Regions from separate parts of the Homo sapiens genome. Here all the other regions are linked to region 1. Evidence: fine-mapped expression QTL. A gene starts in region 1. Each other region holds a variant in brackets. All regions are shown on one strand. Distances are from middle to middle. Region 1 holds the start of FHOD1 (formin homology 2 domain containing 1). Region 2 overlaps CTCF (CCCTC-binding factor). Region 3 holds the start of NOL3 (nucleolar protein 3). Region 4 overlaps CTCF (CCCTC-binding factor). Region 5 overlaps RIPOR1 (RHO family interacting cell polarization regulator 1).

What was found. PIP is the estimated chance that this variant, and not a neighbour inherited with it, causes the effect.
Region 2: its variant is fine-mapped to the expression of FHOD1 in whole blood (TOPMed, PIP above 0.99).
Region 3: its variant is fine-mapped to the expression of FHOD1 in lymphoblastoid cells (TwinsUK, PIP 0.95).
Region 4: its variant is fine-mapped to the expression of FHOD1 in whole blood (TOPMed, PIP above 0.99).
Region 5: its variant is fine-mapped to the expression of FHOD1 in tibial nerve (GTEx, PIP 0.96). The same link has a PIP of 0.9 or more in whole blood.

What each region holds. Positions count from the first base shown.
Region 1 is chr16:67,244,496-67,250,315 of GRCh38, reverse strand. FHOD1 (formin homology 2 domain containing 1) reads left to right here and starts at 2,835. Exons shown (of 22, transcript NM_013241.3): 1 at 2,835-3,106. The coding sequence starts at 2,906. SLC9A5 (solute carrier family 9 member A5) reads right to left here and starts at 1,337. Exons shown (of 16, transcript NM_004594.3): 1 at 1,115-1,337. The coding sequence starts at 1,301. RefSeq lists enhancers at 599-1,098, 1,099-1,600, 4,001-4,660, 5,433-5,482, 5,593-5,642 and silencers at 1,276-1,385, 1,686-1,775, 1,796-1,885, 2,528-2,897, 3,798-3,897.
Region 2 is chr16:67,600,439-67,606,258 of GRCh38, reverse strand. The region is part of intron 2 of CTCF (CCCTC-binding factor); the gene reads right to left. Among named protein-coding and RNA genes, the nearest start is that of CTCF, 41 kb to the right of the region's middle. The variant CTG/G (reference allele first, on the strand shown) is at 2,743.
Region 3 is chr16:67,169,573-67,175,392 of GRCh38, reverse strand. NOL3 (nucleolar protein 3) reads right to left here and starts at 4,855. Exons shown (of 4, transcript NM_001276309.3): 1 at 4,819-4,855; 2 at 929-1,231; 3 at 449-772; 4 at 1-346. The coding sequence starts at 1,223. The coding sequence ends at 339. It overlaps HSF4 (heat shock transcription factor 4), which reads right to left. Exons shown (of 13, transcript NM_001374675.1): 13 at 5,452-5,762. The coding sequence ends at 5,608. RefSeq lists silencers at 809-1,068, 2,805-2,968, 4,609-4,898 and enhancers at 966-1,888, 5,109-5,258, 5,749-5,798. The variant G/A (reference allele first, on the strand shown) is at 2,921.
Region 4 is chr16:67,567,171-67,572,990 of GRCh38, reverse strand. It overlaps CTCF (CCCTC-binding factor), which reads right to left. Exons shown (of 12, transcript NM_006565.4): 2 at 1,727-1,843. Among named protein-coding and RNA genes, the nearest start is that of CTCF, 7.6 kb to the right of the region's middle. The variant C/G (reference allele first, on the strand shown) is at 2,541.
Region 5 is chr16:67,538,556-67,544,375 of GRCh38, reverse strand. It overlaps RIPOR1 (RHO family interacting cell polarization regulator 1), which reads right to left. Exons shown (of 22, transcript NM_024519.4): 3 at 5,552-5,704; 4 at 5,308-5,386; 5 at 4,625-4,648; 6 at 4,477-4,530; 7 at 4,171-4,323; 8 at 4,013-4,076; 9 at 3,875-3,918; 10 at 3,672-3,797; 11 at 2,798-2,946; 12 at 2,594-2,723; 13 at 1,112-2,509; 14 at 907-1,028; 15 at 1-77. Among named protein-coding and RNA genes, the nearest start is that of RIPOR1, 13 kb to the right of the region's middle. RefSeq lists a silencer at 1,575-1,624 and enhancers at 1,815-1,864, 5,671-5,820. The variant C/T (reference allele first, on the strand shown) is at 3,059.

The sequences.
Region 1 (5,820 bases):
TTAACCCCAGCCCCGAGATCCAAGCCCCATCACAGAACCACGCTCCCGGAAGGCATATTGAGTTCCACTTTCCATTATTAATCTCAGGCTGCCACAGCAGAGTGGAGAGTTCTGTTCCTGCCCAGCCCCCTCACCCCCTAGCAGTGTCCATGTGGGAGAAGAGGGGCAAATTCTAGGCTCTGGGTGATTCCTCCATGAAGGCTGTATTGGTGAGACTGGAGTACAGGCTGTGCCAGCATCCATGGGGAGAGAGTAGCAACGCTCAGCTATAATTAGTCACCCCCACAGCAGAGCCAGCACAACAGGGAGAAGGAGGAGGGTCTCTGGTGGGAGGAGGGACCACTGGCTGCTCAGAAGGGAGGAGGAAGGAGCAGATGCAAGGAAAAGCAGCTCTATTCAGGGAAAAAGAAGTCTGAAGCACAGCCTTCAATGCTGTCAGGACTGAAGAGGTCGGATGTATGAAAGCATCTAGGGTAGACAGCACACAGGAAGGCCCCGATACACGGAAGTTTCTTATACCCTGAAGTGAGAAGAATGTGGACCTGAACGTGGGTTGGGGGGGTACCCATACACAGGCACAAGAAGGCAGCAGCTTTAAGTGGGGAGCAGGGGAGAGCTGGAGGAAAAGTGGCAGTGTAGTTTCCCAAGGGAATGGACACTCGGACATGGTCTCCAGGGAAGGCTGCTTTTTCAGAACCAGGATGCCTGTGTTCTTGGGAGAACACCCTCCCCTCAATGTCCCCACACATCCTCACCAGCGACAGAGGTTTCTGGGAGGCTAGGGATTGGTGGGGGAGAGACCAGACTGAAGAGGGCCTACTGCAAGGGGAAGAGGGGAGCGGAGAGGGCAAAGGAGCCTACAGATGGAGTTGGGGAGAGCGGGGGACAGCCCTTCAGAAAGGCAAATCCTCAGAGCTCCCAGGGGAGAAGACAGGGACCTGGGACCCACAAGAAGCGATGCAGGAACTGGGCGAGAGCCCGGATTTGTGGAATCCAAACCTAAGTCCCAGCACCGTGCAAGAAGCCAGCCCCAATCTGAGGACCGAGGAGGTGGGGGTGTTGGGGGCGGGTCCGCCGCTGGCGGTCGGCCTGGCGCACGCACACACGCACTCACCGATTTTGGCCAGACTGGCCACCAGGATCCACAGGGCCACCAGGTAGGGCGCCTCCACCTCGTGCCACTGCCAGCGGAAGAGCTCTAAGCCTGGGGGAGGCTCGCCCGGGGACTCTGGCTTCTGGGTGGGCTCTTCGGCCGCCCCCGCCAGGGGCAGCGCGAGCAGGGACAGGGCGGCGCGCAGCATCCTGCCGCCTGCCCAGCCGCCCTCCCGGCACCGCACGGCCGCCGGCCCCGCGTCGCCGCCGCCACCTACCGGGCGCCCCCGCGTCACAGGCACGTGGGGCCCGCTCCCCCCAATCCCGGCTCCGATACCCCCAAGCCAGGTCCAGGCTCCGAGACCCTGCCTCGGACTCTCGTAGTCGGGGACTCTCTCCTCTTTCCTCCCTAAATCAGTCCCAGCTCCGGAAATTCCCCAGTGCAGCTCTCCCCCAAGTTCCACAACCTACTCCTTCGAGTCCGCGCCCCCAAACCTCCCCAAAACCGCCCCCACCAGATCCAGAGCGGTGCGCGGCCACGGCCCCCCTGGGGCAGCCCGCAGCGGGAAGGGCGGGGGTCTGCGGGGGGCGCGGTCAGGACGGGAGGGGCACGGCTCCTCCTCGGCCAGCGCTGCTGTGCGGCGAGCAGCACCCCCCTGGGACCAAGGCGCGGCCGGGTGCAAAACGCAGGGGACCGTGCTTGGCCGCCCTCCGCCCACGTTGCCAAGCCCAGGACCCCCTGCCGGCCCCCACCCGGACCTGAGCTGCGCACGCGCACTGGACGCTCCCCAAAGCAGTGACGGACAACGCTGCCCCCAACGTCCCAGAAACCCTAAGGCCCAGACTGGCCCAGCTCGTGCCAGGCGAAGAGGGAGGCTGTTCTTCATCTCCCAAACCAAGGGGCACCTGGCCCTCCCTTTCAGTCACACTACAGAGAACTGTCTCATCTCTTTGATGAAGCTGACAGGAACCTATGGAAAACCCAGCCTACTGATTCCCTTCAAACTAGGCGAGATGCACCCAACTTTTTCCAAATCTGAGGGGCATTCGGCTCATAGCGCCCCAAACAGAGGAGGACCGTCTCCACTTTTCATTCAGGCTGAGGGGCACCCATCCCACTTTTTCTCCAAAACTGAGGGGAACGTGTTCTATCTGCCCCCTCAAACTGACTCCTCCCAATCTTTTCCCAGAAAACTGAAGGGCATCCTTCCCTCTTCCTCCCACAACTAAAGGGAACTGATCCCACCTCTTCCTTCAAACTGGGTGGAATTTATTCTCACTTCTTGCTCCAAATTGAAGGGACCCCCTCTCACTGCTTTCCCTAAATGAGGAAACCACAGGGACTCACCCCTCAAATGGAAGGAATGAGGGCTATCTTGTCCCTCAACTGAGAGAGACCTGGCCGGCCACTATCTAAAGAAACTTCTGCCCCATCTGCCCTAACACCCCTCAAAGAGAACGCAGCCTCACTATCCCCAGACCAAAGAAAGCCTCCCCGCCTTCTGCGCGTTCTCGAAGGTGGGGCGCGAGCTCGGTTTTTCCCGCCCTCCTAGCCAGTGAACTAACGGGATTCCCATTGGGCCCTGTGAGTGGCTAGCGGCGGCCCCGCCTCCGGCAGTGGTTACCTCCTGGCGCGCACTCGGGGACTAATCTTGGCTCCACCCCCTTCCTCGGCCCCGCCTCCGTCTGGCCCCGCCCCTCCAGCCGCGTCCGGTCCGGCCGGGCCCGAACCGCGGAGCTACAGTGTGCTTTGAGTAGAAGCTGCACTGGGGCCGGGACTCGGAGGCGCGCTGCGTGAGCCGGCCGCAGAGCCATGGCGGGCGGGGAAGACCGCGGGGACGGAGAGCCGGTATCAGTGGTGACCGTGAGGGTGCAGTACCTGGAAGACACCGACCCCTTCGCATGTGCCAACTTTCCGGAGCCGCGCCGGGCCCCCACCTGCAGCCTGGACGGGGCGCTGCCCTTGGGCGCGCAGATACCCGCGGTGCACCGCCTGCTGGGAGCGCCGCTCAAGGTGAGGGAGGCCGGAGAAAGGTTGGGGCGATCGGGGGTTCAGGGTGGGCGCCATGAAAACTGGTGGGAGGTGCTCCGCGGGAAGAGGCTGGAGCGAGTGTTCTTCTCCGGAAAAGTCTTGGGCTGGGGTCCCAGGGTCCACTCTGCCCCGCCTGCGGGGGAGTCCCCTCTCAAGTTGAGGGGAAACTGAAGAGGGGTGCCAGGAACTTGGCTCCGCCATTCTGACTGCCCTTCGAATTAGGCGCACCTGGGGAGGTGCTCGAGTTCCACTCGCCGTCGGTCTGCCAGGGTGGCTTCCCTGGTCAGAGTGACGGTAGCCGCTTGGGCTGTAGCGGACCCTGGAGGCGGAGCTGGGGAGGGACCAGCTTCCACCTGCTTCAGGTGAGGTGGGGGCGGGACCACGAGGAGGGGCGGGCCCGAGGCGGACTACTAGAGGTGGCAGAGGTTTCCTGCGGTGTCAGGAAGCTGGATTGGGGCTTGACCCTGTAGGTCAATGGGAGTATGGGAGTGCCGGCCGAGGAGAGACTTCACGGGGTGAGGGGAGTCCCCGCGAAGCGGTCTGGCCCGGGATCCGCAGAGCGCAGGAGGCTGCACGGGTGTAAAAGCCCTTTGAGTCACCGCTCCCGCCCCCACCCCCGGACACTCGCCGCCCATCGGCCCGCGCCTGAAAGTGAGAGGGAGGGCCGGACTAATTTTAAACAGCCGGCCTGCCCTACTTTGCTGCCGCCCCGAAGCGGACTTGTGCACAGTGCGGAAAGAGGCCCTTTTCCAGATGGCCAGCCTACCTCCTCTCCCCTCCCTCTCGCCGCCGTCAGCCCCCCGCAGGCAGCCCTTTCCGGCGCGCTGTTTCCGGGCCAGGACTCTGGGAGGCGCACTACCACCTCCACAAGCTCCCCACCAGCCCGGCCGCCTCCAGTGCTGGAGAAGAGGAGAGAGAGTCGGGGTGGGTGCCCTCCCCTGCTCCCAGCCTCAGCTGGGCGGCGAGTTGCGTAAACTTGCCCCTTGGGCCTGGGGTCTTCCCTGGAATGTGCCCCGGGCCCCCAGCCCGCATTCCTCGCGCTGCGGCCAGCCCCGCCTCTGAGCGCTGGCGGGAGGGGTGGTGAGACTATTGGCCTGGAGAGTGGCACGTGTCCAGGCCAGAACCCCGGCTTCAAGGCCATGGCTGGAAGGATGCAGGACACTGCTCACCGCCAGTTTTGACTCAGCCCCCGCTTCTCTTGCCCTATTCAGAGGGGCAAATTGAGGTGTGCCTGGAAGAAGCGTGTGCAGCTGGAGGCCACCTCCCATTCAGGATGGGGGCTGGGAAGACAGGAGTGCTGAACTAAGACTGGTTCCCGCTTCCAGGCTCCTAAAGTCCGGATCCTGAAATAAGGGTGGGGCACTAGAGAATATATTGTATTCCTCTCATCCTGCAACTCAAGGATTGGACCTAGCCCTGACACCACCCCCCCGATTTTTTTTTTTTTAAGACGGATTCTGGCTCTGTCTCCCAGGCTGGAGTACAGTGGGGCTATCTTGGCTCACTGCAACCTCCACCTCCCGGGTTCTAGCAATTCTCGTGCCTCAGCCTTCCAAATAGCTGGGATTACAGGTGTGCGCCACCATACTCAGGTAATTTTTGTATTTTTAGTAGGGACAGGGTTTCTCCGTGTTGGCCAGCCTGGTCTCAAACTCCTGACCTCAGGTGATCTGCCTGCCTAAGCCTCCCAAAGTGCTGGGATTAAGGCTTGAGCCACCATGCCCAGCCCCTTGACACACCTCTTCCCAGCTGGGGGCAAGCCTGGGAAGTCAGCTGCAAGAAAGAGGCTCAGAACCACTCCTTCTATCTCCCTCTCATGGGACCCGTGTCCCCACCCAACCCTACCAGGTGCTCTGCCCTGTGTTCCCTGCTCCTTAGCTGAGGACACTACTGAGCTCCGGTGAAGAATATAAGTTCCTCATCCCCAATGCAGTCCTTCCTGGTCTCCCCGATTTCATGTTCTCCCACCTGGAGTACCTGAGGACTGCCTTCCCTCCCCCACAGGGATATGGAGGTGGCACACTAGGTTACCACAATGCCAGAAGCCAGGATTCCCTGGGGCTAGCAACTCTGCCAGGAATGGTCAGATGCACTGTGATGTGCTCAACCCAAATATAAACTATGACCACAGCCCCAGAATAGAAGGCTGGAGGAAGAGGGGCTGAGAATAGGGCAGAGACAGGGACATCAGAGAGCTGAGCAAGGGGGAGCAGGGCCCCTCCTTGCAGGAAATGTCAACAGCTGGTTCCTCCCGTAGTCCTATAAGTGGGTGCCCCAGAGTCACAGACATGACTCAGGCCTGTCTTGCTGGCCCTCTAGAGGGAAGAGGTGGCCCAGAAACCAGGGCATCCCTGTCCCAAGCTGTAGGGCAGAAATAAGAGGAAGGGGTTCTTTACTCATTGCTTCGTCCTATGTACAGTTGTCCAGCAGAGGACAGGACACAGCCAAGTGGCCTCTGTCCTCCTCTGGGTACTGGCCCCGGGTACTGGCCCTGATCATCCCAGCAGATGACCCCCCTCCCTGGGGATGTACAGAGGCCAGCCTGCTTTCTCCCTGGGACTCCACCCACACACCCCATTGGGCCGAGCCTAGCCCCTAGAGTTCCCCTGGGGGCTTCCTTTTTAAAGAGCTTTCAGATCTCAGAAAGCCTTGCTCATTTCCTCCTAGACTAGGAGGAAGCTCCTGGCCACAGCCTC
Region 2 (5,820 bases), 360 kb before region 1:
AAAGGTTTGGATTTCTGGGTACAATAAATACATGTGGGAATTAGTTATGAGTAAGAAAAAGAACTGGCTTAAAGCACAGGACAGAGGAGAGGGTAGTAAGACAGGTGAAAGATGTGCTGGTTGCCCCCCATAGTTTGGATGGTCTTGAATAACAAAATACCTCAGATGACTGGCAATGGAAAACCACTTATGCTTTCTGGGCAGAGAAGTAAAGATTCACTCATTTCACAAAGAAGAAGACTTAATTTCCTCAAAAAGTGTGTCTCTACTTTTGCAAAAACTACATGATGCACTTACCACCCTTCTGGCTCACAAAGCCCCTTCGTACCTGACCCCATGATAACCTATTCAGATTTATGTCTTGCCCTCTAGCACTCTCCCCTTCAGTCAAGCTGTCTTTTCATCCAGACACAGTTCCTACTGTCATCTCCCTGTCTTCACTCTGTACTTTACGTCTGATCCACTCCTCTCAACACCAGCTCATCCCTGGCACAACAAAGCTTTCTGAGGTTCTTGTGGCCACTACTTTGCTCCAAATGTGTTTCTGATAAAATAAGGACACAGTTTAGCACTTAAAATTTTCTCAAAACGATCTATTTTCCCAGTTGGGTGTGAAAGCTCTTTAAGGGCAAAAGCCGGGCTTGAAGCAACATATACTTTTGGACAGATTCAGCAAACCCCACCATCTGCCTGGAAAAAAACAAGGCTCAAGGTAAACTCCCGAGGTTGTTGGATTGCCAGTTTGGTTTATTCTTCCATTACCTTCTTTCTTTCATTAGTCCCTTGTTCTCAACAACCAAGAGAAAAATACAACAACATCCAATGCAAAGGCTTCTTACTATGCTGTTCCATGACAGTGGGGACAAATATAAAAAAATGTTACCGCAGAAGGTGGGGATCAAAGAACATTTGTAGAATGCTTTATAATTCACCTATAAATTAAAAATGAGCAAAGTGCTAGTATTTTTATTATAAGATGTCATTTAGGCCAAGCGTGGTGGCTCACGCCTGTAATCCCAGCACTTTGGGAGGCGAAGGCGGGTGGATCATGAGGTCAGGAGACCGAGACCATCCTGGCTAACACGGTGAAACACCATCTCTACTAAAAAATACAAAAAATTAGCCAGGAGTGGTGGCGGGTGCCTGTAGTCCCAGCTACTCGGGAGGCTGAGGCAGGAGAATGGCGTGAACCCGGAAGGCGAAGCTTGCCATGAGCCGAGATTGCGCCACTGCACTCCAGCCTGGGAGACAGAGCGAGACTGTCTCAAAAAAAAAAAAAAAAAAAAAAAAAAAATCCCATTTATACCTCTGATTGTAAAAGACTAAGCATAATCCTAACTATAATTAATTTTATATACTCAGTACTGTTCAGACAGATTATCTTTAGAATATAAATTCTCTAGGCTGGCACTGTTCAATAGAAATATAATGCAAGCCACAAACATAAGCCACATTATATGTAATTTTAAGTAAAAAAAATTCATATTAAAAAGTAAAAAAAAAAAACAAAAAACAAAAAAAAAAAAAACCCTGGTGAAATTAATTTTAGTAATCTATTTTACTTAACCTGGTATGTCCAAAATATCATTTCAAGGTTTCATCAATTTAAAAAATTGTTGGCCGGGTATGGTGGCTCATGTCTGTAATCCCAACACTTTGGGAGGCCAAGGCAGGTGGATCATGAGGTCAGGAGATACAGACCATCCTGGCTAACATGGCGAAATCCTGTCTCTACTAAAAATACAAAAATTAGCCGGGCGTGGTGGCGGATGCCTATAGTCCCAGCTACTTGGGAGGCTGAGGCAGGAGAATGGTGTGAACCTGGGAGGTGGAGCTTGCAATGAGCCAAGATCGCGCCACTGCACTCCAGCCTGGCAACAGAGCGAGACTCTGTCTCAAAAACAAACAAACAAAACAAAAACAAAACTAACAAAAAAAATTGTTATGCTTGAGACACAGACTTGCTCTGTTGCCCAGACTGGAGTGCAGTGGTAGGATCACAGCTCACTGTAACCTCCAACTCCTGGGCTCCAGTGATCCTCCTGCCTCAGTCTGCCAAGTAGCTAGGACTACAGTTTATGCCACCATGCTCAATTAATTTTCTTTTCTTTTCTTTTTTTTTTTTTTTTTGAGACGGGGTTTCCTCTGTTGCCCAGGCTGGAGTGCAGCAGAATGGTCATGGCTCATTGCAGCCTTGACTTCCTGGGCTCAGGTGATTCTCCCACCTCAGCCTCCCGAGTAGCTGGGACTACAGGTTCATACCAGGCACCAGGCTAATTTTTTTGTATTTTTAGTAAAAGTGGGGTTTCACCATGTTGCACAGACTGGTCTCGAACTCCTGGGCTCAAGTCATCTGCCCGCCTCAGCCTCCCAAATTGCTAGGATTACAGGCATAAACCACCGTGCCTGGCCTCTAATTTTTTTTTTTTTTTTTGAGACAGAGTCTTGCACTGTTGCCCAGGCTGAAGTGCAGTGGCGCGATCTCAGCTCACTGCAAGCTCCACCTACTGGGTTAACGCCATTCTCCTGCCTCAGCCTCCCAAGTAGCTGGGACTACAGGCTCCTGTCACCACGCCCGGCTAATTTTTTGTACTTTTAGTAGAGACGGGGTTTCACCGTGTTAGCCAGGATGGTCTCTTATCTCCTGACCTCCTGATCCGCCCGCCTTGGCCTCCCAAAGTACCAGGATTACAGGTGTGAGCCACCACACCCAGCCTTTTTTTTTTGAGAGGGAGTCTCCCT[CTG/G]TCGCCCAGGCTGGAGTGCAGGGACTTGATCTCGGCTCACTGCAAGCTCCGCCTCCCGGGTTCATGCCATTCTCCCACCTCAGCCTCCTGAGTAGCTGGGACTACAGGCACCCACCAGCACTCCCAGCTAATTTTGTTTTTGTATTTTTAGTAGGGACGGGGTTTCACCATGTTAGGCAGGATGGTCTCGATCTCCTGACCTCGTGATCCCCCACCTCAGCCTCCCAAAGTGCTGGGATTACAGGTGTGAGCCACTGCGCCCGGCCTAATGTTTTCTTTTTTTGTAATTTTTTTTTTGTAGAGGTGTGTTGCCCAGGCTGGTCTTGAACTCCCAGCCTCAAGTTATTGTCCCATCTTAGACTACCAAAGTGCTGTGATTACAGGTATGTGCCGTCGTGCCCAGCTATATCTTACATTTACAGCATACCTTAATTTGAACCAGTGAAACTCTAAATTCTCAACAGCAACATGAGGCTAGGGGCTTCCGTACCGGACAGCACAACTTTGTACTTGTTATTCAAAGTATGGTCTGAGGACCAGCAGCACTGGCTTCTTAAAAACACAGAACTTCAGGTCCCACCCTTGACCCACAGAATTAGATTTTGCAATTTAACTTTATACTATTACTGTTTCCCCATTAAGATTTTCTTCTCTTTTTTTTTTTTTTTTTTTGGAGATGGAGTTTCACTCTTGTTGCCTAGGCTGGAGTGCAATGGCGCAATCTCGGCTGAACACAACCTCCGACTCCTGGGTTCAAGCGATTCTCCTGCCTCAGCCTCCCGAGTAGCTGGGATTACAGGCATGCGCCACCACACCTGGCTAATTTTATATTTTTAGGAGAGACAGGGTTTCTCCATGTTGGTCAGGCTGGTCTTGAACTCCTGACCTCAGGTAATCTGCCGGCCTCGGCCTCCCAAAGTGCTGGGATTAAAGACATGAACCACCGTGCCCAGCCCCCAGAAAAAAACTTTTTAAGAGAAGTTTTTCAGTCCCTGAAAAGCCCCAAAAGTTAGTATCCCTGCAAAGGGAATGATAATCCAGATGTCTGGAGCTAGGGAACATACAAAAAGCCCAATTTACTTCAGAGTGACATTCTCAGAAAAGGTATCAAAGAACAAAAAATTGAGATGCTGTGAATGTAAATGTGGTGACCCTGCCAGAGTCACTACATAATCCCAGACTATTTAAATATCCTCAATAATAAAATTGGTAGAGGAAAAACAATCTTTGGGGTCTCCAGGATTTTGTAGCATATAATTTGATGCTACAACTTGAAGACAACGGAAAAAAATTCTATCTGGTCTCTGGTGTGAATTTGAAAACTTAAAATGTTAAAAATTGCTTGTAAACAGGCTGGGCTGAGTGGCTCACGCCTGTAATCCCAGCACTTTGGGAGGCCGAGGCAGGCGGATCACCTGAGGTCAGGAGTTCACGACCAGCCTGACCTACATGGTGAAACCCCATCTCTACTAAAAATACGAAAATTAGCCAGTTGTGGTGGCAGGTGCCTATAGTCCCAGCTATTTGGGAGGCTGAGGCAGGAGAATCGCGTGAACCCTGGAGGCGGAGGCTGCAGTGAGCCAAGATTGGGCCACTGCACTCCAGCCTGGGTGACAGAGGGAGACTCCATCTCAAAAAAAAAAAAAAAAATTGCTTGTAAACAACCGAGTCCAACCTAAAAGAGGTCACAGAATTATAAACCAGGTAGAAAAAGAAGTGGTACAAAAGAGTACAAATAGAAACCAACTGTGCTTCCAAGAAGTTGAGCTGACAGAGTACTGTCTCACTGAAAAAAAACACATGGCATAAAGTCCACAAAACAACAGCATCTACTCGGTCTTAAAGCAATAGCTTCTATTTTTAATAGAGAAAAATCAGACACAAAGTAGCAAGCCATCAGCCTCTCAATACACTGCTCAGAATCTCAGAGCATCCCCGAGGTCAGGAGATCGAGACCATCCTGGCTAACATGGTGAAACCCCATCTCGACTAGAAATACAAAAACAAAATTAGCTGGGCGTGGTGGCAGGCGCCTGTAGTCCCAGCTACTGGGAAGGCTGAGGTGGGAGAATGGCATGAACCCGAGAGGTGGAGCTTGCAGTGAGCCGAGATCACGCCACTGCACTCCAGGCTGGGTGACAGAGTGAGACTCCGTCTTAAAAAAAAACAAAACAAAACACACACACACACACACACACACACACACACACACACACACACGGTGACAGAGTGAGACTCTGTCTTAAAAAACAAAACAAAACACACACACACACACACACACACACACACACACACACCCCTTAGTGCATTCCATCAAGCAGTGGATCTCTCCTTTTACTTTCTTTCCAGACGATGGGAGTCTCTCCTCTGAATCAATAAGTAACCAATAGGCTGGACCAGGTCATTCTCCCCACTCCCTGGGGACTGCGCTTCTAGCTGCCTCTCCCGACACTAGCAGCTCCAATCCATCTCCTTTCTTTACTGCTTTCAAATACTCAGTTCCTCTTAGTACAAAACATACCCACTCACTCTAATTCCTACATATTTTTTGGCTCTATGCTTGCTTGAGTCGCCCATGCCTTCTAGGTTTCATCAAATATTTTTTGTGGACCAATATCGCCACCAAAATGAAGTTTATATCACTCAAAGCGGTTTTAATTTACTTACAGGACACATTTTTTTTCCTCCAGATTACGAAAATCACCTAATATTCTGATGCTGTTTTCTCAGCTATTCAGTTAAAGGTATATATTTTGTATATATATGAAATCATACTATATATGGAATTTATATACACTTCTATATATGGCTTTGCTCTATCTCAAAAAATCTGTCCTTATGACTAGGTGTGATGGCTCAAGCCTGTAATCCCAGCACTTTGGGAGGCTGAAGTAGATCACTTGAGCCCAAGAGTTCAAGCCCAGCACAGGCAACATGGGGAGACCCCATCTCTAAAAACAAATTTTAAAAAACACACATTAGCCAGGCTAGGCATGGTGGCTCACACCTGTAATCCCAGGACTTTGGGAGGCTGAGGTGGGCAGATCCCTTGAGTCCAGGAGTTCGAGACCAGCTT
Region 3 (5,820 bases), 75 kb after region 1:
GGCAGGAGGGTCAGGTCCTTGTCCCACTAGGGGGCTAGGTTTGGGATCTCCAGGGTGCAGCCTGGACTCCTAAGGGCAGATTAGGGCTGAGGACTGGATGATGCTCGTGGTGGGCTTGGGCCTGCCCAGGTCCCTGGGACTCAGAGGTACCCACCCTAAGTTCCTGGGCAAACAGCCAGAATCGTGGAGAGAGCCCAGGTCCCGTCCGACCCTCCGGAGTTTATTCACTTCCAGCGGTACTGGGCTGGACCGAGCCTTGGTGGCATCCGATTCAGCTCCAGCAGCATCCCAGGTCCTATCCAGCATGGGCGGGGCACCGCCTGTCAGAGCTCTGGCCTTCAGGAATCTAGAGATGACGGGAACAGTGGTCAAAGAGGTGGGGTCCGGCATCCGCTTCCCAGGCCATGCCCTCCCGCCAAGCCGGCTCAGGGTTTGGGCGGACTCACACCTTCGGACTCGTCCCTTTCCTCGAAGTCGGGCTCGGGCTCTGGGTCCGGTTCTGGCTCCAGTTCCGGCTCTGGTTCTGCTTCAGCCTCGGGTTCCAGCTCTGGCTCTGGCTCCGGCTCCGGTTCAGCCTCTTTAGAGGCCTCAGCTTCCAGCTCTGGCTCTGGCTCCTCCGGGGTCCCGGATTGCACCGCCTCGGAGCCCTCAGGGCCCCCGGCCTCGTCAGGGTCTGAAGCTCTGGGCAACCCGGGGCATGTGGTCCCCGAGCCGGGTGCCTCCGGCGTCCAGTGGCCTGGGCATGGAGGGTCATAGCTGCGGTCCCGGTAGCCTGGGGCGGAAGTGGGAGTGACTGAGGCTCAATTTACCCCTGTGCGGTTTCACACTCGCCTACTTCTAGCGGAGACGACAACCCTGCCCTCCCCGGGCCTTTTGTCTGCCCCAGCCCCGTCCCTGCTCTGCCCTAGGCCCCGCCCCGCGCGCTCACCCGGACCCACGTGCTGCCAGTCCCAAGCGGGGTCCGGCGCGCCCGCGGTACGCTGGGCACAGCGTAGCAGCTCCTGGCAGGCGGCCTCGCCCTTGCCCTGCACCAGCAGCAGTAGGCGGCGCACCCTGCGCTCGGCATCAGGCAGTGCATCCAATGCCTCGTACTCTGGCCCGGTGAGCACGCCCCGCGCCAGCAGCGCGTCCAACAGCAGTCCCGAGTCCGCCTGCAGCGTCTCGACCAGGCGTTTCCGCTCGCGGTCGATAGTCTCTGACGGCCGCTCCTGCGCGTTGCCCATTGTCGGGGCTGCATGGGGAAAGGGGAGAGAAGTAATGGGGGGTTGCCCTCCCCGCTGCCCTCGCCGCCTCTGACCACTCCCTCAATGCCCCCAGTGAACACCCAGGCTGGGGTTTAAGTTCACCTCGATCCCAGCCGCCGGACGGCTCCGCAAGCACAGGACCTGGAGGCCAACACGGGGAACTCGGTGTCCTCCTGCCTCTCCAGACGCTCTGTCCTGTCTCCTCCTCAGGCTCCTCCTTCTGTCCCCAAGCGTCAGCCGTGGCTCTCCTCTCCTCCCCTGCCTTTCCCAGGACTGGCATCTACTCTCTGAATGCCCTCCCCAACCAGGACGTCCTGAGCTCCACCCCCGGCAAATCCGAGGCGAGTTCAGACCCCGTTTATCCAAACTAAGGTCTTTCTCTCAAATCTGCTTCCCCACCTAACCAGGCAGAAAAACCTAGGATTGATGCTGATACTCCACACCCAGCTTGCAGACAAGTCCTTTCCAGTCTGACTGCTGAATATTTCTCTCACCATCCTCACCACTTACTAAGTCCAGCCTTCTGCCTCCTGCTTTGGCCCTGCAGAACCCAGGATCAGAGCTCCCTGCTTCCATACTCTATCCTCCAGTCCCCTCTGAACCCAGAGCACAAAGTGCTGAGAGCCTCCCTGCCCCTCTCCCCTTACCTTGACCCTGATATCCAACTTTCCAGGACAAGCCCCGCCTCTACACCCTCCCACCAACACCACCACCATAGTGCAACCCCAATGTAGTCTCCTGGCCCTTCCTGGTCCCCTGATTCCTGAGCAGAGATACCAGAATCTTCTTCAGGCCTAGCTCTGACCAAGATCTCTTGACATCACCTGAGACCCACCTGTCTCCCTACTGAAGCCCTAACTCCTAATGTGACTGTCTCTCTGCTGACCCACCTGGCTCCCTGCTGACCTGGGAATTACCTACAGACATTTGTTGTTTGATCTTGAAGTACCCAAGGCCTAGCTCATACAGGATACCGACAAATACTTGCCGAACTTGGACTGATTTTCCTCCATGGATCGCACTATTTTGAGAGACTTTTTTTTTTTTTTTTTTGAGATGGAGTCTCGCTGTTGCCCAAGCTGGAGTGCAGTGGCGCAATCTTGGCTCACTGCAACCTCCGCCTCCCAGGCTCAAGTGATTCTCGTGCCCAGCCTTTTTTTTTTTTTTTTTTTTTAGAGGTGGGGTCTTGCTATATATATTTTTTGTATTTATTTATTTTAGTGGAGACGGGGTTTCACTATGTTGGCCAGGCTGGTCTTGAACTCCTGACCTCGTGATCCACCTGCCTTGGCCTCCCAAAGTGCTGGGATTACAGGCGTGAGCCACCGCGCCTGTCCTGGTCTTGCTATATTGATCAGGCTGGTCTCGAACTGCTGGCCTCAAGCAATCCTCCCATCTCAGCCTTCCAAAGTGCTGGGATTACCAGCACTTTGTGAACCACCATGTGAACCACCATGCCTGGCTCTTGAGAGACTATCTCTACCAACAGCGGCTATTAGGGAGAGTCAATCTGCTTTATCCATTTTTTTTTTTTTTTTTTGACAGAGTCTCACTCTGTTGCCCAGGCTGGAGTGCAGTGGCACATTCTCTCATCACTGCAACCTCTGCCTCCTGAGTTCAAGCGATTCTTCTGCCTCAGCCTCCCGAGTAGCTGAGATTACAGGTGCCCGCACCAC[G/A]CTCAGCTAATTTTTTGTGTTTTTAGTTGAGACGGGGTTTCACTATGTTGGCTAGGCTGGTCTCGAACTCCTGACCTCGTGATCCACCCACCTTGGCCTCCCAAAGTGTTGGGATTACAGGCATGAGCCACCGCACCCAGCTGCTTTGTCCATTTATTGTCAACCAAGGATTATGGCCCATTCCTGTGAGTGGCCTGACCCAGCCAGCAAGACCCCCGGCATTAGGAGGCAAAGACATCAGGCCTTGAACCATGCCCTCAGCCCACCCCCACCCTGATAATAACTTCTTCTCCTCCCCGCCTTGGCTTTGTTCACACGGCATCCTCCCATCTCTTCTTCCCTTTGCTGTCCCTCCTCTGCCTCCTTCTCTGGCTCTAGGAGGCTCGGCCTTCTCTGGGAGAGAGGATTTAGTCCTAGCCGCCATCCTGCCTCCCAGGTCTTTCTCAGTACCCTCTGGTGTCACACTATACCTCCCCCGTCACTTCACACCCTGGCTTCCTCCCATTGAAGCCCTTCCCCACCAGGCCGAGACCAGGACTACCCCCTGCCCCTCCATCTCCCTTTATGTCCCGTATGTGATGAATCTTGCTTCTCCACTTCTCAGTGAGTCTCCATCAGCTCCTGCCTTGCCACCCCACCATCGTCACCTCATGTCCTGTAACAGTCCCTCTGAGCCCCTCTCACTCCCATTCTGCCAGGCCCGATAGCACAGTGACTTTGACAACCCTCTGGGCTAGGATTGCTGTTCCCATTTTACAGATGAGGAGACAGGCTCAGAGATTCAGTGGTAAAACTGGAATCTTACTTGCTCCAGCCTGAACTATGAGGAACTGAACTATATTTTCCTGTCTAGCAGAATTCCATCCTAAATACCTATCTACCTCCCCCCCACACCCCACTGCCCATCAGAGACAACCCAAAATATCTGGTCTGGCTACTCTAGCCTCCTCCCACCACCCTGGACAGCCAGGCCCTTCCCAGCTTCCCTCCACCAGCCAGGGATCGGAGAACTCACTATGCCTCTGGCACCTCGGAGCCTTTGCTGATGCTGATCGCTAAGACTGGAATCCTTTTCTCCTCCCTCCGCTCCGTGGACCTATCCATCGTCCAGGACTCAAATGTTCCCTTGTCTACACCAATGCCTAAGTGTCCCAAGGGCTGGTGGTTCCTTCTTCTGTGTACCGTGAACAACACATGCCCTCACTAGTGCATTAACTGACATCATTGCACTGTGTACACGCAGACTCTCCGCTTTCTTCAACTGAGTTTTCCAGAGTGTCCCTCCAATCGGTGGGCAAAGGAAGGGAGAGGGGGACAGCACCTACTCGGGACAGACACAGGGAGGGTGCAGATTGGATTGGCCCCTCCTTCTCTCCAACCTAAGTTGTTTTCATGTTAGCCGCCTCCTCCTATGACCCCAAGTCCTGCCCTTTATCCTGTCTGGGGGTAGAGACTCCAGCTGGTCTGGGCCCTCCCTTTGAGGCTCACACAGCTCTCAATACCGAAGTTATTTAGCGGCCAGTCCTTCGAGGGTGACAGGTCCGATTCTTCCCAGAGAGCCAGGTGGCGGGGCACGGAGCTGGGTCCCAGCCCCCAACCCCACCTCGCTGCGCGGGCTCTTTGGCCAGGAAGCCAGGGTCTTGGGACAGTGAAGAGCCTTTGCGCATGTGCGACTGCACGGATTTTCCCCCCCCGCCCCTTACCTCCCTCCACCCAGTCCCAGAGCTTGAGAGTCCTGCGGCAGGGCGGGGCCCACAGTCCTACCCACCCCGCCCCCCCGACCCCCGAGCGCCGCAGCGGGTGGTGGGGCGCTGATTCTGCCCAATCTCGGTTTCCCTTCCCTCCCACAGCCGGGAGTGGGGCTCCCGGTCTGGCCCGTTTTGGGCGTCCCCACTCACGGGTCAAGCCTCGGCGGGGCAGGAGATGACGGTGCAGAAAGGGCCGGGCAGGGTGGGGGTGGGTGCAGCAGCTGCGGCGGGGGCGGGGCGGCCAGGGCTGCTGGGAATAGGGAGGGTGAGGGTTCTTCCCCGGGCACTAGGAGCCACACCGCGGAGGCCGCGCGCTGGCTGGGGACGTGCATGTAGTCAGCTTTCCCTCCCCACCCGGGGCGCACCAGGAGATGAGGCCAGGAGGGGGCAGTTCGGCCCGCGGCCCCACACGTCCAGCGCCCACTCAGGGCCTGCCAATTTCCAGGTGCTTTCCATCTATCTTGTCATCGACCCCTCTTCTCTGCCTGTCACAGAGGAAGTTCAGAGAAGGATACCAACTCACCAGGATCACAGAACGCATGCATTGCAGAGCTGAGCGCGACCCAGAAGCCCCCGCTTCCCAGAGATTGCAGCGGCCCCGCGCCAGCCCTGGACCCGGGCCTAAGCAAGGGAGCTAGGCACCGGATCCCCAAGCACCTCCACCCTCCTGGGGTTCCTCTATTAAAAACCTAGTATCTGGACGCTTCTACAAATGCAAAATCACCCCCCACCCATAACTCCTGTGCTCCCTGGTCGATAGAGAAAAGAGACCAGAAACAGAAAAAAAAAAAACGGAGTTTATGTGCAGGGATAGTCGGGGTAGTGGAGAGAGGCCATTTAGTAGTGGGGGCTTCGCTCACCCCCGATAGGGGGCGCCAGGAAGCCAAGAAGGATGTGCAGCGGCGGACTGGTTCCAAGCCCCTTCAGAGGCGCGGGGTCTTAGGGGGAGGGACTGGCTTCCGGGCCCAAGTAGGAGGCAGTCCGGCTCTCAGGAGTGCTATAAATGGTTAAAGCCCCAGGCAGGCCCAGGGCTGGGCCTCCCAAGGCCGCCTGGACATCCAGCAGGAGTGGGGCCCCGAGCGTGGGGTCCTTCCCTAGGAGAAGTGGGACTGCGCTCACCAGGGGAAATGTTCCCCCTCCTTTCTTCAGGGA
Region 4 (5,820 bases), 320 kb before region 1:
GTGAGCCACCGCGCCCAGTCTTTTGTTGTTTTGGGGGGGGGGGCGGGGGGGGGCAGACAGAGTCACTCTGTCGCCCAGGGTGGAGTGCAGTGACACAATCCTGGCTCACTGCAACCTCTGCTTCCCAGGTTTAAGCGATTTTCCTGCCTCAGCCTCCCAAGTAGCTGGGATTACAGGCACCCACCACCACACTCGGCTAGTTTTTATATTTTTAGTAGAGATGGGGTTTTACCATGTTGGCCAGGCTGGTCTGGAACTCCTGACCTCAAGTGATCTACCTGCCTTGGCCTCCCAAAGTACTAGGATTACTGGGATTTTGGAGGCCTTGGCCTTCCAATGTACTGGGTGTGAGCTACCGTGCCTGGCCAATATTTAATATTTAATCACTGACCAGTTAAATTACTTAACTCACCACCTCCTCTATGACTATAACTGAAGTTCTAGGAAGATGGGTCATGTTTATCTTTCTTGTGACTCCAAGTACCCCGAAATCATACCACCTGATTCCCTAAGGGTATTCATATCCCAGTTTGAGAAACAGGGATCTAAGCAATTAAGCTAGTCATAACACTTGAAAGTGATTAACGTGTTCCTATAAACCCATTCCCTAAACTCTTAAAGGTTCGATTTCTCAATAGTTTTTAAATCAGCAACTTTTGGTATGCACTCTGTGTCAACACTCCTAAAAGAACCTGCAGGGCGTAAGTTATTTTTGGAGTGACAGAATACTACCACAGACCTTCTCCTTCCCATCTAGCAGGATAACAAGTTGCCCATTTGGAAAATAAAGGTTTGAAGAATAACAGAACTTTCATTCCTATTCCCTTCTCTTTATTTGCTCCAGGCAGAGCTTGTAAGAAAAATCTTAGTAGTCATTTAGATGATTCATTCACATAAGCTTATCTAATCCTGGCATTTGTAATTTCCACTTCTACATTCCTTTTTGCCATTACACATGTACGATTAAATTATTTTCACATTTTTCTAGGGTCTGAAAAAAATGTGCTTTCCGGTACCGTGAGAAGAGATAATTTTTACAACCAGAATCCCACTTTGTTGTTTATGAGATCCCAAAGCATAGTAGATTCCAATATTTATAGAAGGTCTGTTCCAAGTTCCATATAATGTCCATTATATTTTATAGCAAAAATTACAGGCTAAATTAAAATGATAATCACTGTCACACTCTGACGCAAAATGGGCAATGAGCTAGGCTAACTCAAATTAAGACAATTTTTATCCAGGATACCAGGTTCCCCAAGAACAGGATTCCATCTGTTTCTTATCAAAATTACAAGTAGCCACAGGTCATGGACTTTCTTTTCAGTTCATTTGCCAATAGTCAAAATACACATTCCAAGGGTTTCTACAGAAAAGCAGCCACAATTTCCTGGGATCTTTCTATGTACATGTTCAGAATAGTACTTAAAGCTTTACAAAACACATTCTCATTAACGGAGAATAGTCTCTGAGATTGGTGGTGTTATTCTCTCACAAGTGAGGACTACAGGAGTAGACAGGTTAAAGTAACTTGCCCCATATTACCCAGCTAGTATATCATCGTAAAGAGTTTCAAACCCAGGACTCTGATTATGAAGCCTGTATGCTCTCAATCACCTGATATCCTGCATCCCCTATATTCAAGAATTAGCCAACAAATCCTCCAACTCCAGGAGGGTTATATTACTACCATTTTTAAGATAGAAAAAATGGAAATAGCACTTACCTCTCCGTGGCTGCAAAGTCAGTTTGAGGAGGGAAAATAGAACCCAGCTCTCAAGCCCCTGGTCAGCAATCTGTCCACTAGCGCATCTTGTTCTTTGGCTTCAGGTCCGTAATCATTCTAAAAGAAAAGCACAAATCATTTTATGAAACACTAAATTCATACAAATACGCATATAGTATGAAAAAAAATGAGGGAAAACTGAAGACAGAAAAAATTGGGAAAGAAACAAAACACCTGTTCATGTCATGTCACTAACCGAGCCATTCCATAAATGTCCACCATCAAGCCAATAACAAAACATTCATTTATTTTTTCACACATTTGCTAAATATATAAAGGACTAAAGGTTTCTAAGTAGCAAAATAGTACTCCAGGCTCACACCAGTAATCTTAACGCTTTCGGAAGCCAGGGTGGGAGACTCACCCAGGAGTTTGAGGCTGTACTGAGCTGAGATTGTGCCACTGCATTCCAGCCTGCTTGACAGAGTGAGAGATCTTGTCTCAAAAAAAAAAAAAAAAAAAAAGGCCAGGCGCGGTGGCTCATGCCTGTAATCCCAGCACTTTGGGAGGCCAAGGCGGGCAGATCACGAGGTCAGGAGATCGAGACCAGCCTGGCTAACATGGTGAAACCCCGTCTGTACTAAAAATACAAAAAATTAGCCGGGTGTGGTGGCAGGCGCCTGTAGTACCAGCTACTTGGGAGGCTGAGAATGGTGCAAACCTGGGAGGCAGAGCATGCAGTGAGCCGAGATCGCACCACGGCACTCCAGCCTGGGCGACAGAGCGAGACTCCGTCTCAAAAAAAAAAACAAAA[C/G]AAAACACTCCACTGCAATATTGCAACCAAATAATGGCACACATATTCAAACTACCAAAAAATTAATTATTGGCTGGGCGCAGTGGCTTACGCCTGTAATCCCAGCACTTTGGGAGGCCGAGGCAGACAGATCACGAGGTCAGCAGATCAAGACCATCCTGGCTAACACGTGAGACCCCGTCTCTACTAAAAATACAAAGAAAAAAATTAGCCGGGTGTGGTGGCGGGTGCCTGTAGTCCCAGCTACTCAGGAGACTGAGGCAGGAGAATGGCATGAACCCGGGAGGCGGAGCTTGCAGTGAGCCGAGATCCTGCCACTGCATTCCAGCCTGGGCAACACAGCGAGACTCCGTCTCAAAAAAAAAAAAAAAAAATTAATTCTTATGGCTGCAGTAATGGCTCTCTAACAGTTTATTTCCGTATCTTTAGCAAGTAGTGGTCTTACTGATTAAGTTTGTTCATGCCACAAGTAAAGGCTATGCTTTCCAGTTTAGTAAGATAACTGGGGAAGCCAAGGCAGGTGGATCACCTGAGGTCAGGAGTTTGAGAACAGCCTGACCAACATGGCGAAACCCCATCTCTACTAAAAATACAAAAATTAGCCAGGCGTGGTGGCACACGCCTGTAATCCCAGCTATTCAGGAGGCTGAGGCAGGAGAATCGCCTGAACCCAGGAGCCGGAGGTTGGAATGAGCCGAGATCGCGCCACTGCACTCCAGCCTGGGCGACAGAGCTAGACTCCGTCTCATTAAAAAAAAAAAAAGATAACTGGCAAAAGGAGCTTTTACTGACCTTTGAAAATCCTAGAAGCATAGCAATGAAACAGTTTTTTTAGTCGAATAACGGAATACTTTGTTAGATGGCATCTTTTCACCCTAAATTACAAAATGAACTGTCAAGCTTCAAGCAAAGGTAGAGTGGAACCTACCTCTAAAGAAAAAGAAAGAAAGAAAGAAAGAAAATCCCAGGCCAGGCACAATGGCTCACACCTGTAATCCCAGCACTTTGGGAGGCCAAAGCGGGCGGATCACGAGGTCAAGAGATTGAGACCATCCTGGCCAACATAGTGAAACCCCGTCTCTACTAAAAATACAAAAATTAGCTGGGCATGGTGGTGCAGGCCTGTAAACCCAGCTACTCAGGAGGCTGAGGCAGGAGAATCGTTTGAACCCAGGAGGCGGAGCTGCAATGAGCCAAGATCGTGCCACTGCACTCCAGCCTGGCGACAGAGTGAGACTCTGTCTCAAAAAAAGAATAAAATAAAATCCCAAATGAAATAAAGAGCTAAATTTGAACTAAGTGTTTCCAAATAGGCCAGGCACAGTGGTTCACGCCTGTAATCCCAGCACTTTGGGAAGCCAAGGCAGGCGGATCACAAGGTCAGGAGTTCAAGACCAGCCTGACCAACATAGTGGAACCTTGTCTCTACTAAAAAAAATACAAAAATTAACCAGGCGTAGTGGTGTGTGCCAGTTATCCCAGCTATTCAGGAGGCTGGGGCAGGAGAATCGCTTGAACCCAGGAAGCAGAGGTTTCAGTGAGCCAAGATCACACCACTGCACTCCAGCCTGGGCAACAGAGCAAGACTCAGTCTCAAAAAAAAAAAGAGTTTCCAAATAATATAGCCAGGTGTGATGGCTCACACCAGCAATCCAGCACTTTGAGAGGCCACAGCAGAGGACTGCTCGAGCCTAGGAGTTCAAAGCCAGTCAGGGCAACATGGCAAAACCCCGTCTCTACAAAATACATAAAAATTAGCCAGGCAGGCCGGGCACAGTGGCTAACGCCTGTAATCCCAGCACTTTAGGAGGCCCAGGCGGGTGGATCATGAGGTTAGAGTTCGAGACCACCCTGGCCAACGTGGTGAAACCCAGTCTCTACTAAAAATACAAAAACTAGCTGGGCATGGTGGTATGCACCTGTAATCCCAGCTTCTCAGGAGGCTGAGGCAGGAGAACTGGTTGAACCCGGGAGACGGAGGTTGCAGTGGGCCACCATCGCACCACTGCACTCCAGCCTGGGTGACAGAGGAAGACTTCGTCTCAGGGAAGAAGAACAACAACAAAAAAAAGGCCAGGCATGGTGGCTCACGTCTGTAGTCCCAGCACTTTGGGAGGTCGAGGTGGGTGGATAACCTGAGGTCATGAGTTCCAGACCAGCCTGGCCAACATGGTGAAACCCCGTCTCTACTAAAAATACAAAAATTAGCTCGGCACGGTGGCAGGCACCTGTAATCCCAACTACTCCCGAGGCTGAAGCAGGAGAATCACTTGAACCTGGGAGGCCGGGGTTGCAGTGAGCCCAGAACATGCCACTGCACTCCAGCCTGGGAGACAGAGTGAACTCCATCTTAAAAAATATATATATATACACGTATACATATATATGCCAGGCATGGTGTTGTGTGCCTGTGGTCCCAGCTACTTGGAAGGCTGAGGTGGGAGGATCGCTTGGGGCAGGTGGGGGACAAGGCTGCAGTGAGCCATGATCACACCACTGCACTGCAGTGTGGGCAACACAGTGACAACCTGTCTCAAAAAAAAAAAAAAAAAAAAAAAAAGCCGAGTATGGTGGCTCACACCTGTAACGTCAACACTTTGGGAGGCCGAGGTGGGAGACTTGCTTGAGCCCAGGAGTTCAAGACCAGCCTGAGCAACATAGTAGGATCCTGTCTCTACAAAAAAATAAAAGAATCAGCTGGGCATGGTGGCACACGCCTATAGTACCAGCTACTTGGGAGGCTGCAGCAGGAAGACTGCTTGAGCCCAGGAGTTCAAGGCTGCAGTGAGCTATGATCATGCCACTGCACTCCTATCTGGGCAACAGCTATGATCATGCCACTGCCTCAATCAAAATGTATTAAAAAAAAAAAGTTTCCAAGCAATTTGGCACATGAGGTACATCTTCTAAGAGGAAATCCATCTCACAATTAGCTAAACTCCACAAAACTCACTAATACTTAGATGAAGCTAAAGTCTCCTCTGTTGAGAGGCAATTTTTAGTAACACAAATAGGTGATTAGCATATTTAGTCCAACCAACACTTCCATACTGGAGTCCATTATTATTACCAGCATACCTCAAAGGGAATGAAATTTTCTACCCCTGAAAATTCCAAGAGTGACCAAAAACAAGGATCAAGTGTGAAAGAATACCATCCTAACCCTCACCTTTGGACTGTATTTTGGCAGTCTATATGCAATGCCACAACTTTGCATTCAAATATTAAATCACTGAGAAAATGCACAAAGATACTAGCAGGAAAGATACGAAGACAGACT
Region 5 (5,820 bases), 290 kb before region 1:
GACACCCCGTGCTGAGGGGGCGGGCACTGGGTGAGTCTATGCTGTCCTCAGCCCCAGCCTCCGGGCTGCTTGGAGGCCTGAGGGAAAAATGGGGTCCACCACCCCACAGGCACACATCACCACCTGGTCACCAGCGTTTATTTTTATTAAGCTTCCCCCATGCCAGAAAGGAAGAAGATGATGCACCGACAGCAGACAGTGGGGTAAGTTCATGGAGGATTTCCAGAAGGAGGAAGGGGCTGGGACCAGCAGGTGGTAGTAGGGATCTCTGGAGTCAGTCTGCGCCATGCTACCTCCAGCTGGGACCACTGGGGATGGCATGGGTAGGAGTAGGCTGCAGGCGGGATGGTTTATGACAAGTGGACTGCAAAGGGTGCAGGGCATGGGGCTGTAGCCTGGGCAGCAGCAGAGGAAGGAGGGACCTGGCACAACTCTCAACTGGGAACCAGCAAAGGCCACTCCAGGACTGACAGTTGAGGGGCCAGGGCCTCTGGGAGAGTCGGGGTTGAGAAGGAGTGGGGCAGTGCTGGGGTCCCAGGGTGCACGGCGAGACACTGAGAGAGCTCCTTAAAGGGCAGGTCCAAGGTGAGGCCAAGGGGAAGAGGAGGGGCTGGAGGCACCCAAGCTGATGGGGACCGGCAGGGGAGGCAGACATTGCAGAGATGAAGAGGGCGGTCAGAAGCACTGGGGACACACGTAGGGTTGGAGACATGGGCATGAAGGACATGGGAGGGGTGGACACAGGTGCACCTGCCAGCAACTCAGTCCTCACATGCTCCACCTGGCCCTGCCTCACCTGTCCTGTCCTTTGACTTTCTCCCAATTCACCTGTTCCACCTTCCCCTGGTCCTGCCTCACCTTTTCCCTCTCACCTAGCCTCACACCCATCTTGCCTAGCCCCCTCACCTGTCCCCAGGAACATCATTGTCTTCATCTTCGTCTTCATTGAGGAAGCTGAAGCTCTCCAAGGCATGCTCCACAGTGATGCTGAGACTGGAGGCCCGGCTGCGAGTCAGACCTTGTCTCTGCTGAGGTTGTGAAGGGCATCAGAGCGGCTGCCGCCCCCTGGCTGCCCTCCCTGGTTGCCCTAGCCCAGCCCAGCCCTCCTCACCATGAGCAGACTTTCTAGGCGGGTCACCTCCTGCTCCAGGCCCTGCAGCTCAGGAAACTGGCCACGGTAGTCATCCAGGGCAGCCATTAGGGCCCCCAGTGCCTCCTCCAGGCTCCTGTCCCCAGACCCTCCGGCTGCCGTTGGGACTGGGGTCTGGACAGCCATGGCCAGGCAAAGGTCTGAATGCTGGGGTGCAGGGGTTGGGGGTGAGGGAGTGGGGCTTAGACTCTGAACCGTAGACTCTGAGGGATCTGGGGCAGGGCTTGTGAGGGGTTTCCTACTGGAATGGGCAGGACTTGGGTGGGGAGTTCTGGGGGCCATAGGGTCTGCCTGAGTGTAGGAATTGGAGACTGGGGGACTACAGGGAAGGGAGTCAGTGCCTGGGAGGGTGGGGTCTGAGTGTTTGGAGGGGCTGGAGAGGGTAGCAAGTTCTAGAGAAGTGGAAGGGCTTACATTTATAAGGATGGGGCTTGTGGTGGGATGGGTGGGGCTTGTGGTAGGATGGGTGGGACTTGTGGCAGTCTGGACTAGGCCCATACCACTGGGGGTAGGACTTGTAGTGGTGGGAGGTGACATACTGGTTTTGTGGGTGGGACTTGTGGGGGTATGGGTGGGGCTTGTGGAAGTATGAGTGGGGCTTGCTGTGGTATGGGTAGGGCTTGGCATAGTGTGGGTGGGGCTTGTGGTAGTCTGGACTGGGCCTATGATATTGAGGGTAGGGCCTGTAGTAGTAAGGGTAGAGATTATGGGCTTGTGGGTGGAGCCTGTAGTAGTGTGAGTGAGGGGGCTTGGAGCACTGTGGGTAGTGGTAATGGCACTATAGGTAGAGCCTGTAGTGGTGTGAGTGGGGCCTGGCAGTTCTGAAGGGCCAGAGTCTGTGGACTTATGAACTGAGTCTAGGTGTGCAGATGGGGCAGGGTCTGTAGATGTGGGGACAGAGCCTGTTGTACCGAGGGTAGAGCTTGTGGCAGAGTGGCCAGGGTCCAGGGCAGGAGGAACAGGACTGGGGTGCTCTCCATGGGTGGGAGCTGGGTGTGTAGGTGGGCTAGGTCCCCAGGCTAGGCTTTCTGGGCCAACGGCCTCCACTGAAGCCTCAGCCAAGGCAGCATCTACACTAGCCTCACTGATGTGGCTCAGAGTCCGACTGTAGGGTGCATGCCCATTTGCCAGGACTGGGGCCACGGCCCCCTCCTCATCCAAGGGCCCAGAGCTGGGGGTCTCAGGCCTGCGGAAGGCAACTTGGATGGGAAGGGGCTCGGGCTGCTGCACCAGGGGCCTAGGGGCTGGTGAGTGGCGGGCAGTGCCTGAGAGCTGTGGGCTGGATGAGTCGTCTGAAGATTCAGATGACAGGGACCATGCTGTCCCATTCTCCAGCTCCTCCTGCCGTCGCAGCATGTTCTGAGAAAGAGGAGAGGGCATTTCAGAACCACCCCCAGGGAGCCTCTGGGGGATGGTGAGGCCTGGACCTGGGCTATGACTCACATAGAAAGCCTGTTCCCGAAGTGAGGGTGTGTCCGGTGGGCTCTGGCTATAGGTGGAGAAGCGCTTGGTGACTGTGGAGGCCTTGTTGACAGAAGAAGCAGCTGAGGGCTGGTCATCCTTGTCGAAGGGGCTGGGAAGGGAAGAGGCTGTTGGCAGGTGCCACAGCCCTCCTGGCCCTCCTCCAAGCCTCTCAGCCCCACCAACCTCCATGTGACTTCCAGGCTGAGCTTGATGGTACCAAGGTCATTGATATCCACAGCCACAACCTGGGGCAGGGCGGCAAACAGGTCCTTGGTCTCACAGGAGACACTGCCCACAACCACATGGTTGGCCAGGCCCTTCAGTTCTGTCACCTGTAGCCAAGAGTGCATGGTAGGGTCACAAGGGTGCAGGGGCTATGAGATCATGGGAAATCTGAGGTCTGAATTTGCATAGAACTTATAAAATGGTCATGGGAGGCTGAGG[C/T]AGGAGGATCACTTAAGGCCAGGAGTTCAAGACCAGCTTGGGCAACATGGCAAGACTCTGTCTCAAAAAAAAAAAAAAAAAAAATTTTTAGCCAGGCATGGTGGTGCACCTGTAGTCCCAGCTACTTGGGAGGCTGAAGTGGGAGGATGGGTTGAGCCCAGGAGTTTGAGACTGCAGTGAGGTATGATTGCACTGCTGCACTCCAACCTGGGTGACAGAGTGAGACCCGCCAACTCCTAGATAGATAGACAGACACATGCATGCTCATGGAGCCATGGATGCTTGAAGCAGCCTGGGAGCATGGGAATCACAGAGGTCTGCATGGTAGGGTCACTGAGGTCATAGAGGTCACAGCCTCATGGGAGCTTAGGAGGTCAAATATTCACAGGGTCAGAAGATCATGAGGAGGTCACAGGGTCAGGAAGCCATGATGTCCTAAGAGTCACAAAGATTGTTCCTCTCAGGGCCACAGAGATCATGAAGGTCATGGAATCATATCTTCACAGGGCTATGGAGCTATGAGGGGATCACAGGAGTAAGGGACTCAGGGTAATGGGGGTCACAAGGGGTTCACAGGGCCATGGTGGCCTGCCGTCCTGGGCAGAGACATCACCTTAATAGACAGAAATTCCGTGAGTAGAGGGAGAAAGATGGTTTCTTCACTGTCCCACACCTGCTTTCCACTACCCTCAATTCGGCCCCGTAGTTTCCAGCGCTGACGCCCATATTTCATGCAGATCTGGGGGAACAGGTAGGATGAGGCAGCCTAGGTGTTGGGACCCTACCGACCCAGCCCTTCCCTGCACATTCTCATACCTCATACTGATCGCCTACACACAGCCTGGCGAAGCCAGCCAGCCCTGAGTTGGAGGAGAAGGGGAGAAGTCGGTGAGCCATATTGGGGTTCTTCAGCATACTCCCTCCAGCCCCCCACCTGCCCCCACAACTCAGTACCTTTCATTCGGAGATGAAACTCGCCCAGCTGTGCCTCCAGCTCGCTCTCCAGCAGACACATGCTCTGGGAGGGAGGGGCAGGGACAGGAGGGGGTCAAGGGCCAGCCACTAGCCCTGCCACACCCTGTGCCTCTGCCTCATGGGCCCCCATCCCTCACCTCCGTGTACTCGCGATGCCCCCGAGTGGCCTCTGCCAGGCTGTCCCGGGCCTCTCGGCTTCCCGGGGACCCAGTGGTGTAGGCACGGACCATGTTGTAGGCACCATCCCGGAGACGCCGCTGGACACAGTATGCCTCATACAGCTCATCGATCTGGGAAGGTGAGTGGGGTGACAGTAGGGGGACTGAGACTCACCTCTGGGGTTACTCACCTCTAAGGTTGCTCACCCAGGGCCTGGCACCACCCCTCTTCTCCCTATGATATCCAACCCCCCACCCCACTCTGCACACATGCTGCACTCGTACCTTGCTGGCATGGAACTCCAGTCGTCGCAGGAAGCGTTCAATGGACTTGACTTGCTGGGGGAGAGGTGGGTCAGGAGGGGCCTGAGGCCCAGGGTCCTTACCCTCCCTGTGAGCCAACCCCTTCCAGTACCATTCCATGCATACTCACCTTGTCCAGATCATACAGGAAGCCCTGCAGGGGTGGGGAGAAGGGGCAAATATTTAGGAGGGATGAGGAGGACTCCAGCAGAGGCACTCAGACTCGTCACAGCTCCCCTTTCTCACACCACAGTCCACAAGCACTCCTGTCACAGTAGCAACTGACGCCCCTTCCTGCTGGTCTAGCCCTTGGTGGATGCTGGTAGCACAGATCTGGTCCCTTCAGCCCCCTCCAGGACCCCTCCTTCCACCTCTTCCCTGGGATTCCTTTTCCTGCAGCCGCCTGGGGAGAGCTCTCTGCTTCCTTGTGCAAGGTTCCCTCTGCAGGGGAACTCCCATCAAGCCCCGGCAGAAGTGTTCCCTCCTCCAGGAAGCCCTAACCTCTTCCCAAGAAGCACCATGCAGCAGTACCACTGCTCAGTACCACTGCAGCAGAATCTCCTGCTGTCCATGTCTGTAGGGGTCCCACCTACCCCACTGGAAGCTCCTGGAGCAGGTACTGAGTCCCAAGCAGAAAGTATGCACAGCAAAGTTTGGGGATAGAAAAGCCCCTCAGCCTTTCCTGATATCCCCTTTTCTACTCACACCTGAACCAGATCACTTCAGAAAATAGCCCAGATATCACCCAGGGCTGCCCTTGCCCAGCCCTCCACACCAAAGAGGCAAAGGGCATCCGTACCTCCCGCCACTCACCAAGCGGGAATTCCTCTTGGACTCCCTTATCTGCCCCTGGAGTTTCTCTTGCTCCTGCTGGTGCACTTCCAAGTAGGCCCTGAGGAAAGGGGCGACCACAAGAATGAACTCGGCTCTCCAGCCTCATGCTGCCCAGGGTGCAGACAGCAGGGAGAGGGCATGGGGCTGGAGAAGGTTCCTGCTAGCAGGATGCGGGCTTGGGGAGGGATCCCGGGACAGGGCTGGGAACAGAGGAGCTGCTCACGTCAGGCCCCGCTTCAGCGCCGTGTACACCAGGTCCAGCCGCTCGGGCTGCGGCACCTTGGCGGCTGGGTGAGCCACGGAAAACATCCTGGACACTCGGGAGAGCGCGGGGGGCTTCCGTGGGGGCCCCGGCGGGCTGAAGACCGGGAAACTCCTGAAGGAGAGGCTGTCCTCAGAAAGAGGAGAGCAGGAGTCCCCCAGACTCTCACTACGCACCCCCAGACCCAGCCCCATCTGACGCCCTTTGACCCCACCAACCCTGCGCGGCCG